2 linked regions of the Homo sapiens genome follow. The protein of the gene in region 2 purifies or fractionates together with the protein of the main gene of each other region. This does not show direct contact. Each region holds a gene or a part of one and is shown on either strand. Other genes may lie near its edges.

The links. The genes of interacting proteins can lie anywhere in the genome.
Region 1: the proteins of SPMAP2 (region 2) and PRICKLE3 purify together in Homo sapiens (affinity purification with mass spectrometry; one large-scale study listed by BioGRID and IntAct). This does not show direct contact.

The regions. Positions count from the first base shown.
Region 1 is NC_000023.11:49,176,191-49,179,873, forward strand, and holds part of PRICKLE3 (prickle planar cell polarity protein 3), read right to left. Parts: intron 3,617-3,683; coding exon 3,503-3,616; intron 3,199-3,502; coding exon 3,061-3,198; intron 2,286-3,060; coding exon 2,082-2,285; intron 1,990-2,081; coding exon 1,803-1,989; intron 1,013-1,802; coding exon 713-1,012; intron 76-712; coding exon 1-75. UniProt on the Homo sapiens protein: Involved in the planar cell polarity (PCP) pathway that is essential for the polarization of epithelial cells during morphogenetic processes, including gastrulation and neurulation.
Region 2 is NC_000019.10:372,629-378,136, forward strand, and holds the start of SPMAP2 (sperm microtubule associated protein 2), read right to left. Parts: upstream 3,399-5,508; 5' UTR 3,343-3,398; coding exon 3,035-3,342; intron 1,794-3,034; coding exon 1,671-1,793; intron 1,384-1,670; coding exon 1,312-1,383; intron 904-1,311; coding exon 842-903; intron 73-841; coding exon 3-72; intron 1-2. UniProt on the Homo sapiens protein: May be involved (but not essential) in spermatogenesis.

The DNA.
Region 1 (3,683 bases), on a different chromosome or scaffold from region 2:
GGAGCCCCAGTTCCGGCATGGAGTGGCGGTGGGGAGCCCCTCTCAGAAAGCGGGAGGGCTCCTCAGGGCCTGTAGCTGTTAAGGGGGAGACAGAGTGACTCCTTGTATCTGCCCTCCCACTGGCCCCCTCCTAAGAGGAGGCCTGCGGAAGGGCCTTCTTTCCTCCACTAAGACTGGGAAAGTGGGGGCAGGGGTCGGAGAATGGCAGGGAGGTGGGAAGTCTGGGAAGTGTGAGGCCTGGAGCAGGCTCTGGGTGTTGAGAGGGTTGGAAGGAAGAACACGGAGCAAGATGGGACTGGTGTGGGGGGCGTGGCCAGGGCACCCGGGGTGGCTTCGGATGGAAGAGGTGTGGCATAGGCTGGAGTAGATTTGGTTTGCAATAAAAGGGGTGGGGCCTGACTGCAGAGGATGAAGGGTGACCGGCTGGAGAAGAGGAAGAGGAACTTGGGGTCAAGCAGAGACAAGTTGAGGTAGGGGACCAGCCCTGTATTGACAGGGTGGAACCAGGGTTCATGAGGCGGGTGTAGTTTGGGATGGAAACCAGGCCTGGACTGGTGTGGGGAAGGAGGATGAGCTGAGAAATGGGCGGGGCCCAGGGATACAGCAGGTGAAGGGCCTGGGCTAGTCAAGAAGGAAGGGCCAGGGCTGAGGCAGGGGCAAGGACATAGGGGTGACTGGGCTGTGGCTGGGTGTGGCTAGAGGGTTAGCTCACCTGGCGCTAACTCTGTGCTGGTGCCTTTGGTGGTGGTCTCTGATGCCCCCTTCACAGCAGAGAAAGAGGCTGTGGAGGCTGCAAGTGGGGCTGTGACAGGGCCGGCACTCCAGCTGCGGCGGCTCGGCCCTGGAGCTGTGGGCTCGGACCCAAGGCTGCAGGCTCGAGAGCAGAAGATTAGGCCTCGGCGTGGCAGGAATGGGCGGCCCAGCAGGGCCCGCCCACAGCGACTACAGCAGAAGCAGCGGTCTGAGGCATGCCAGTGCTGGCCCTCGTAAGCCATCTGGCCTTGGTCCAGGCCTGTGGGGAACGACGAGGGGGAAAAACTGAGGCAGAACCCCCAGGCGTAACCCCACCCCTCGTGAACGAGTCCCTTCTCAAGAAGAGGTGGGGAATCCGAGGCAGGGCACCCCTGGGTGCCTTCCTCCCTCCTCCAGAATGGGGCCCTTTTGGAGAAAGCAGGAAACAGGTTTTGGTTCTCTCCTGGAGACTGGCTGGTGAACCTCTCTCTCACTCCTCCCTTTCTTTCCCAGGGTGCTCTCTCCCAGAGCGGGGTGGGCATTGGACTCTAAGATTCGGGCCAGGCTTAGACATTAGGGGGTGGCTCCAAGTGGAAGGAGAATGGAAAGCTGGGCCTGAAGAGGAGGCCTGGCTGGTGGGGGCAGGGCTTAGCAGGTGGGGAGTGGCCCTGTTGAGAAAGGAGTGGTTCTCAGAGGATAGGGTGTAGCTAGAAGCTAGGCCTGACTTAGGCTGATACAGGAGAGTGGAGGAGAACGGGGCACAGCTTGGGGTGGTAGAGGCTAGGAGTAGGGCGAGCCCTGGGGCTGGAATTAGAGCACCCTCTGGAGGTGGGTGTAGACATGTGGTGGTGGCCTAGCATTGTGTTAGGTGGGGTTTAGAAAGCATGGCATAGTGGGGACATTGGGAGTGGGACTTGCAACCAAGCGTACAGGTCTATAGTGTTGGGGCTGGACAAAGTACAGGGCACAATGGAGGATGGGGCCTGGAGGACAGGAGGAGTCCTGGTGGGGTAGGACTGTGGCCCAGCTGTCCATCCATCCCTCTGTCCAGTCCCACAGCATTCACCCACCGATGTGCTCCCCACAGCCATCACAGTACTCCGCGTGGCGGGCCTCGTAGCAGGCGCAGCAGTGGGGGCGGCTCTGACGCATGACATAGCGCTGCCCTCCTAGTGAAGCTTCACACTCAAAGCAGCAGAAGTGATCCATGTGCCAGTGGCGGCCCTCAGCCTCCGTGCACTCAGGGGAGAAGATGATCTGGAGGGCGCAGGCCATCTGTGGCTGTCAGATGAGCCTGCTCCTGGCCCTGCCCACCCTCAACTCCCACCCCTGGGCAGGGAGGCCCAAACCTCGTCACAGGCTTGGCAGCGTGGACGCAGGCATTCGGCATGGTGACGCCCGCAGTAGACCTTGCCAACATGGTAGAAGTAGATGAGGTCAACCAGCAGTTCCTGGCACGTGGTACACACGAAGCACTGTGGGTGCCAGCAGGCACCCAGGCCTGCACGGCTGGCAAACACTGCGATGTCCCCACCTCCAATCTGCTTTCCGCACTGCCATGAGACAAGCACCAAGATGGTTACCATCACTGTCACCAAGATGGTCAGATGGATGGGGTCAGCCAAAGTATGTTACACTTGGGCCTTTCCCACAGTGAAACTTTGTGATCAGCCCCACCCATGGGGTAACTTTGACACAGGCCCTGCCTATACCAGGGATGGGGTTGGGCGGTACCTTAGAGACTGACCCTGCTCATGAGGGAAGCCGTAGAGACAGGCCCTACCCATGGTGGGTGGCCTTATAGGCAAGCCTCCCTCATCAGGGGTGGGGAAGACAGACAGGCCAGGCCTAGTGGGGGAAACCACAGAGATAGTCTCCACCCACCGGGACCTTAGCAATAGATCTCACCTAACAGTAGGATCTAAGGACAGGCCCTGCTTACCACTGGGCCCTGCAGACAGGCCCTGCCACTGTGGGTCAGCTCTTGAGGACAAGTTCTGACCACAGGAGGACCAAAGAGATAGCCCATGCCCCATGTCCACTGCACAGACGGGGAGAAAAACACACTAAGGCCTCCTTACAGACAAACCCCACACGACAGTGGGATTGATGGGACAGGTCCCTGTCCACCAGGGGTTGCCTTAGAGACAGTCCCTGCCCAACAGTGAGATGTGAGGAACAGACCCCGCCCACAAGAGGGGACCCTAGAGACACCTCACTGGGGCTTAAGTGGCAGGCCTCATCTTCCCAGTGCTTGGAAGATGTGTCCTGCTCCCCAGGGCTTGGAGCAGAGGCACTGCTCACTCGCTGAGGCCCTCCACGGCTCACCTCCTCACAGATGGCCCCAGTGATGGTCACCGGGAAGATGCGCACGATGCCACGCCCCAGATTCTCCCGCTTCCGCTGCTGGCTAAAGGCTCGGAGCTCTTTCTTTTCCTCCTCTTCCAGTGCTGTGCAGTACTGTGCCTGGGAGGAGAAGGCATCTCCCAGGCTCCTCCCTTGATGCCTGTCCCTGCCCCTCTTCCAGACTTCATCCATGCCCCGAAAGTTTACTTCTAGGTCTTTCTATAGATGGTGCCTCCTGCCTGAAGTAACCACCTCTTCTTCCAAGGCCCAGCTGTGGTTTTGCCAAGGAATGTCCCCTGATGACCCCTGCCTGTCTGGACCACTCACCTCAGATCAGCTCACCTTTCCTCCTCTGACCCTGCCCTGCATTGGCCCAGGCTGTGTGCTGTGCCTGGCATGCCCTTCCTGTCTTCTCTCTCCTCACCTCACTGTCGTGTGGGGGCAGCTGGTGCAGCAGCTGCTTGATCCTGTATTTCTCCCCAGGACTGTTGACGTAGGGGACCTTGTCCTCTGGGAGGCAGCTGAAAAATTGATATACCTGGGAGGACATAGGAGTGGGAGAAAACAACTGAAATGAGAGGTGAGTTGGGATGCAGTGAGATGGC
Region 2 (5,508 bases):
ACCTGTTGTTGTTGTAATATTCCAGGTAGAATCTCTTGGGCCGAGACAGTTCCTCCACGCGGCGGGACACCGCTATGCAAAATGGGAAACGGAGTCAGTGAACCCCAGTGTCAACACCCTGCAGTTCCCAGGGGCTTCTGCATGCGGAATTCAGCTTTTCATGAGCTTGGGCAGGAGGCTGAATTGGAAGAACTGTGGGCAGAGACAACTGGGGGCCAGACACCCTGCAGAGAGAAGATTTGCTGTCCCTGATTTAGGGACAATGGGCTCAGAGGCTTGAAGGTCCTTTCTCGGACACCGGATGGGAGTGGCAGGGCTGGAACAGCAGCCCAGCACCGTGGCTCCTCAACGGGGCTCAATACAGATCCAGGGACCCACAGGCTGGGAAAATGGGTTTTGTTCTGAAGTTAGTACAAGCCTGGGGTTTCCAGGGGCCTAGTGATGACTGTAGGTCTAAAGTCAAGAACAGCACAGGAGAGAACTGGACTGTTATTCTCCTCTATGGGGAACTCTCGAAGTGTCTCATTTGAAGGTATCTATGATACCTCAATACCAAATTCCTCTCAAGAAAAGCATGGAAATCATTGTGGAAGGGAAAGCAAAGGGTCTTTTTGTAAATTCTTGCCCCGATTTGGCCCTATCCTAGAGAGTGTTCCCCATGCCCCTCACCCCCAGGACCAGTCTCAGCTCTAGCTCCTCAGGGGACAGACTCCAGTGGGGAGGACAGAGGCTCCGAGGAGATGGGGCAAGGGAGGCCAGAAGTATCTAGATGGGGCGGGGCAGGTTCCCTGGAGGCCGGCAGCCGGGGGCAGGGGTCTCAGCAGGCACGGGCTCCACCTACCGGGCACTGTGATGGTGAGGGTGGTGTCCTCAAGGAACCGCTCGGTCCAGTACACAGAGGGCCTGGAATAAGCGGACGGCTCAGGGCAAGGGAGGCAGAGAGCCCTGGCCCTGCCCGGAAACAAGCCTGGGTCTCTGCCAGGAGGGTGGCCGAGGTGGGGTGTGGAGTTGCTGGGAGAGGGGGTAGGCCAGAGAAGGACAGTGGGGGGGCCGGCGGGACGCGTGGATTATTGTGAGCAAGGCTGATGTCCAGAGAAGGAGGTAGCTGGGGGAGAAGCATAGCTAAGAAGAGGGCCCAGGGCCACCTCCTGGGAGCAGACCCAGGTCACAAGGGTGGAGAGCCCCACATCTGAGGAGCCCTCCCTGATCCTCCTCCCTGGAGAGAGGAGGGTGGCTGGAGTGAAGGGGTCCCCTGGAACCTGACACGTGTCCCCCAGCATAGGCACACGGCGGAGACAGCCCTGGACTTACCAGCAGAGACAGAAGTGCAAGCTCATCTTACATGGGGAGATCCAGGCATACCCCTTACCACAGCGTCCCTTCCTGCGAGGAGACAGGGTCCGAGCCCCACTGCCTCTTGCCCTGGGTCTCCCGTTTGCTCCCAAACTCCTCACTCTCCTTTGGCCACCGCCCAGAGGGCCACCGTTCCCTAGCCACTCCCAGTGTCTGGCCACCTCCTTAACTGGCCAACCCCACCTACCCTAAGTTTGCTGGATGTGGTGGCAGCTGGGGGAGGGGAGCCGAGCAGTGGGGACAGGAGGAGCCCGGGAAGGGTGCAGAGAAAGCCGCCCACGCTGCCCCTACGAGGCCGTGGTCTGGCGTGTCCTCACCTGTCTTTCAGGACTTGCCAGTTTATCTTGGGCTCTGCCAGCTCCATGAGCCTCCTCCGCCTCCTCCTCTTCCTTGCTTTGGTCATGGTGGTGCTGGGGAGCTTCTGGCTGATGGACAGCCGGCTTTGGGAGAATTCCACGTTGAAGTTGGAGCTGCTTTCCCGCCCCGATGCGTTTGGGAGCCCAGAGAAGCGTGGGTCTTGCTCAAGCGCCTTTTGTCTGCACTCACCCTGCCCACCCGCCTCTCCTTTCCCTCGAGGGGTCTCTGAGGGAGGACTTTGGCACCACGAAGGCCTGGACCAACCGCAGCTCCACTGCTCGCTGGATGGAAGACCCGTCCAGGTCACCTGTCTCCCCTGGTCCTCAGCTTCCTCCTCTGTGAATTGGAGGTGAGACCAGCTCCCACCTGGCGGGGCTGTTTTGGTGAGTACTAAGGTAGTGTTTACTCATCTCACAGACATCTGTCAAGTGCTTACTGTATGCCAGGCCCCAGAGGGGCAACCACCCTCTAAAGAGAGCGGCTCCTGCCTCCCAGAAAGCTCACAGACTGTGGGAGGGAAACAGGCAGCAGGTGAAGATGCCAAATGCCAGGATATCTGCCCTGTCCTTGCTTGATGCAGCTGCTGGCTCCCACGTTCTCCCCAGAATCCCCTCACACTCCTGCTGTTTTCTCTGCAGGTTGGCAGAGCCCCATGAGGGCAGGGCAGCCACTTTGTTCTTGGGCGGCAAACCTCCCTGGGCGGCACGGAAACCACGGTGAGAAGGGGGCAGGTCGGGCACGTGCAGGGACCACGCTGCAGGGAGGACGGGAGCCGAGTCCCAGAGGTATGTAGAGTGCGCGCCTTGCTGGGGACACTCCAGCAACTGCCCAAAATCAGCGCCCCCAGTGCTGATTGGCCGAAGCGTCAGTTCACCCAGAACGTGTTCCTCCCGACCATTTAAAACCTTTTAGCCACGTGTGGTGCTTAGAATGGTTTCAACTTTTGAGTTGGGAGGCTTTTTTTTTCCCATTTCTTATTCTCTCTGTCTGACTTGAGGCCATCACTCGCTAAACTCTGAACTCTGGGCACCTGAACTCAGTCTGCCTGACTCCAAACTCAGCGCTGTTTACTCCTCCTCCTGCCACCAGATAGGGGAGCGTCTGCTGGTGTCTGCCTCAGGGCCCAGTGAGGGGTGCTGGCCGCCAACCGACCAAGCCCACACCTAGGCTGACTCGGCAGGGCCGGGCCCCTCGGGAGCAGCGAGCCAGGCCGGTGGCCGGTTACGACCCTTTCGCCCGCCCAGGGGGCTGCTGCCCTCCCCCCACTGCCAGGGGCTGAGCCCTACCCCACCGCACCCAGGCAGGCCCGTTCCCCGGTGCCCACCTGATTTCAGGAATGTCCTCTTCCAAGTCCTTGTCCAGGACTCTCTCCAACTCAGAAAGTGCCTCTTTGGGATCCAGGGTCTCCGGGAACTCCTCCCCGGCCACCTCCTCGGGGGGAAGCTCCTCTTCTGGGTCTTCTGGTCCCAGCTCTGCATTGTCCAGGTCCTGGCGTTCGGGGTCTGTGACCCGCCGGCTCTCGTACACAGAGCTCTGGAGGCCACGGGGGTCGCCGTCCTGCTCCCTTTCCGACCTGCCCGCAGCCTCAGAGCTGGGCTGGTTCCCGAGTGACCTTCGCCTGCTGTCCCCCATACACCGGTCCCTTCCCAGCCCCCGCGGCCTCACTCTCCCGGCACCCAAATGTGTCTGTGGTGGCCGCGGCAACAGGAGAGCGTCCGTCACATTCCCCACGGTCCACATTCTAACCCGTGCGCCGTCTCCAATGCTGGTCACCTGGGCTTGCGCTGGGATCAGGACTCAGTCCTGGTGGTCACGGCTCACTCAGGACCTCCCAGGATTGGTTTAGGAAGGAGACCTGACGGGAACCTGCAGGGGCATCTAGCTATGGATTCCCTCTCTCAAAAGGAGACACAAGGAAGAGACCGCGTCTCCTGTTCCTGTCCCTGTGGGGCCCGTCGGTAATGTCCAGAGCCCAGGCAGCCTTCTTGTGACCATGAGGCCTGCCATCTGAGGGCAGATGAACTGAAAGGTGGGCCTTTGATGTGGCTGTCGAGCCTCTGAACTTAGCAGCCTTGGAATCCACTCTGTGTCCAGGCTTCTTGTTACTTGAAACAGTAAGTTTCCTTAGTACTAAGTCGTTTTGGCTTGGTTTCCAATTCCTAGCAGCTAAAACTGCACCCTAGGTGATACAGACGCTTCCAGCCCCAACCTCTCATGAGAAATAACTTCAAAATAGGCTGTTCCAACCCTCACAACAAAATAATGGTTATAACTGGAGTATTCCCCAGGCTGCTGCCTTCAGGAATTCCTCGTACGTCGCCAAAGGAGCTGAATTTCCAGCCTCTCCCCCTCTGTGCCCCACCCAGCCTCTCCCCCTGTGTGCCCCACCCAGCCTCTCCCCCTCTGTGCCCCACCCAGCCTCTCCCCCTCTGTGCCCCCACCCAGCCTCTCCCCCTCCGTGCCCCACCCAGCCTCTCCCCCTCCGTGCCCCACCCAGCCTCTCCCCCCCCGTGCCTCCACCCAGCCTCTCCCCCTCTGTGCCCCCACCCAGCCTCTCCCCCTCTGTGCCCCACCCAGCCTCTCCCCCTCTGTGCCCCACCCAGCCTCTCCCCCGTGTGCCCCACCCAGCCTCTCCCCCCTGTGCCCCACCCAGCCTCTCCCCCTCTGTGCCCCCACCCAGCCTCTCCCCCTCTGTGCCCCACCCAGCCTCTCCCCCTCTGTGCCCCACCCAGCCTCTCCCCCCTGTGCCCCACCCAGCCTCTCCCCCCTGTGCCCCACCCAGCCTCTCCCCCTCTGTGCCCCCACCCAGCCTCTCCCCCTCTGTGCCCCACCCAGCCTCTCCCCCTCTGTGCCCCACCCAGCCTCTCCCCCCTGTGCCCCACCCAGCCTCTCCCCCTCTGTGCCCCACCCAGCCTCTCCCCCTCTGTGCCCCACCCAGCCTCTCCCCCCCCTGTGCCCCACCCAGCCTCTCCCCCTCTGTGCCCCCACCCAGCCTCTCCCCCCTGTGCCCCACCCAGCCTCTCCCCCTCTGTGCCCCACCCAGCCTCTCCCCCTCTGTGCCCCACCCAGCCTCTCCCCCCTGTGCCCCACCCAGCCTCTCCCCCTCTGTGCCCCACCCAGCCTCTCCCCCTCTGTGCCCCCACCCAGCCTCTCCCCCTCTGTGCCCCCACCCAGCCTCTCCCCCTCTGTGCCCCACCCAGCCTCTCCCCCTCTGTGCCCCACCCAGCCTCTCCCCCTCTGTGCCCCACCCAGCCTCTCCCCCTCTGTGCCCCACCCAGCCTCTCCCCCTCTGTGCTGTGTGCCCCCACCCAGCCTTTCACCCTTCTGTGCTTGGTGGTTTTCTACTCATCATTGAAGACTCAAGCCTGTCGGTCCCCCACGCAGGGAGAGTCCCTGACCATCCCTCCCCTTTCTGGGCTCCCAGGCCTAGGACCCCCACCCCTACCCCCACCCAGTGCTAGCCCACCCCGAGGACTGCTCTGTCCCTCACCCCTGCCACCAGCGTGGGGCCGGCCCTCCGGGCATGGTGACCACTCGGCACGCAAGAGACCCAGTTCATCGACACACACAAAGCCCTCTCCAGCTCCCATCCCATCTCCCTGATGCTCTGCTCCCAGACGCAGCCTCACCACCACCTCTGTCAGGAAAGGGGTCTCTCGGAGGACTCCAGGCAGAAGGGCCCCGGGGAGGATCCGGTCCCATCAAGGAGGCCATGGGAAAATCCCCTTTCTTGGCCGGAAGTCTCGTAAACCCTTACCTTGCACTCAATGATTTACTTTTCTCTCTTAAGTTAAACTG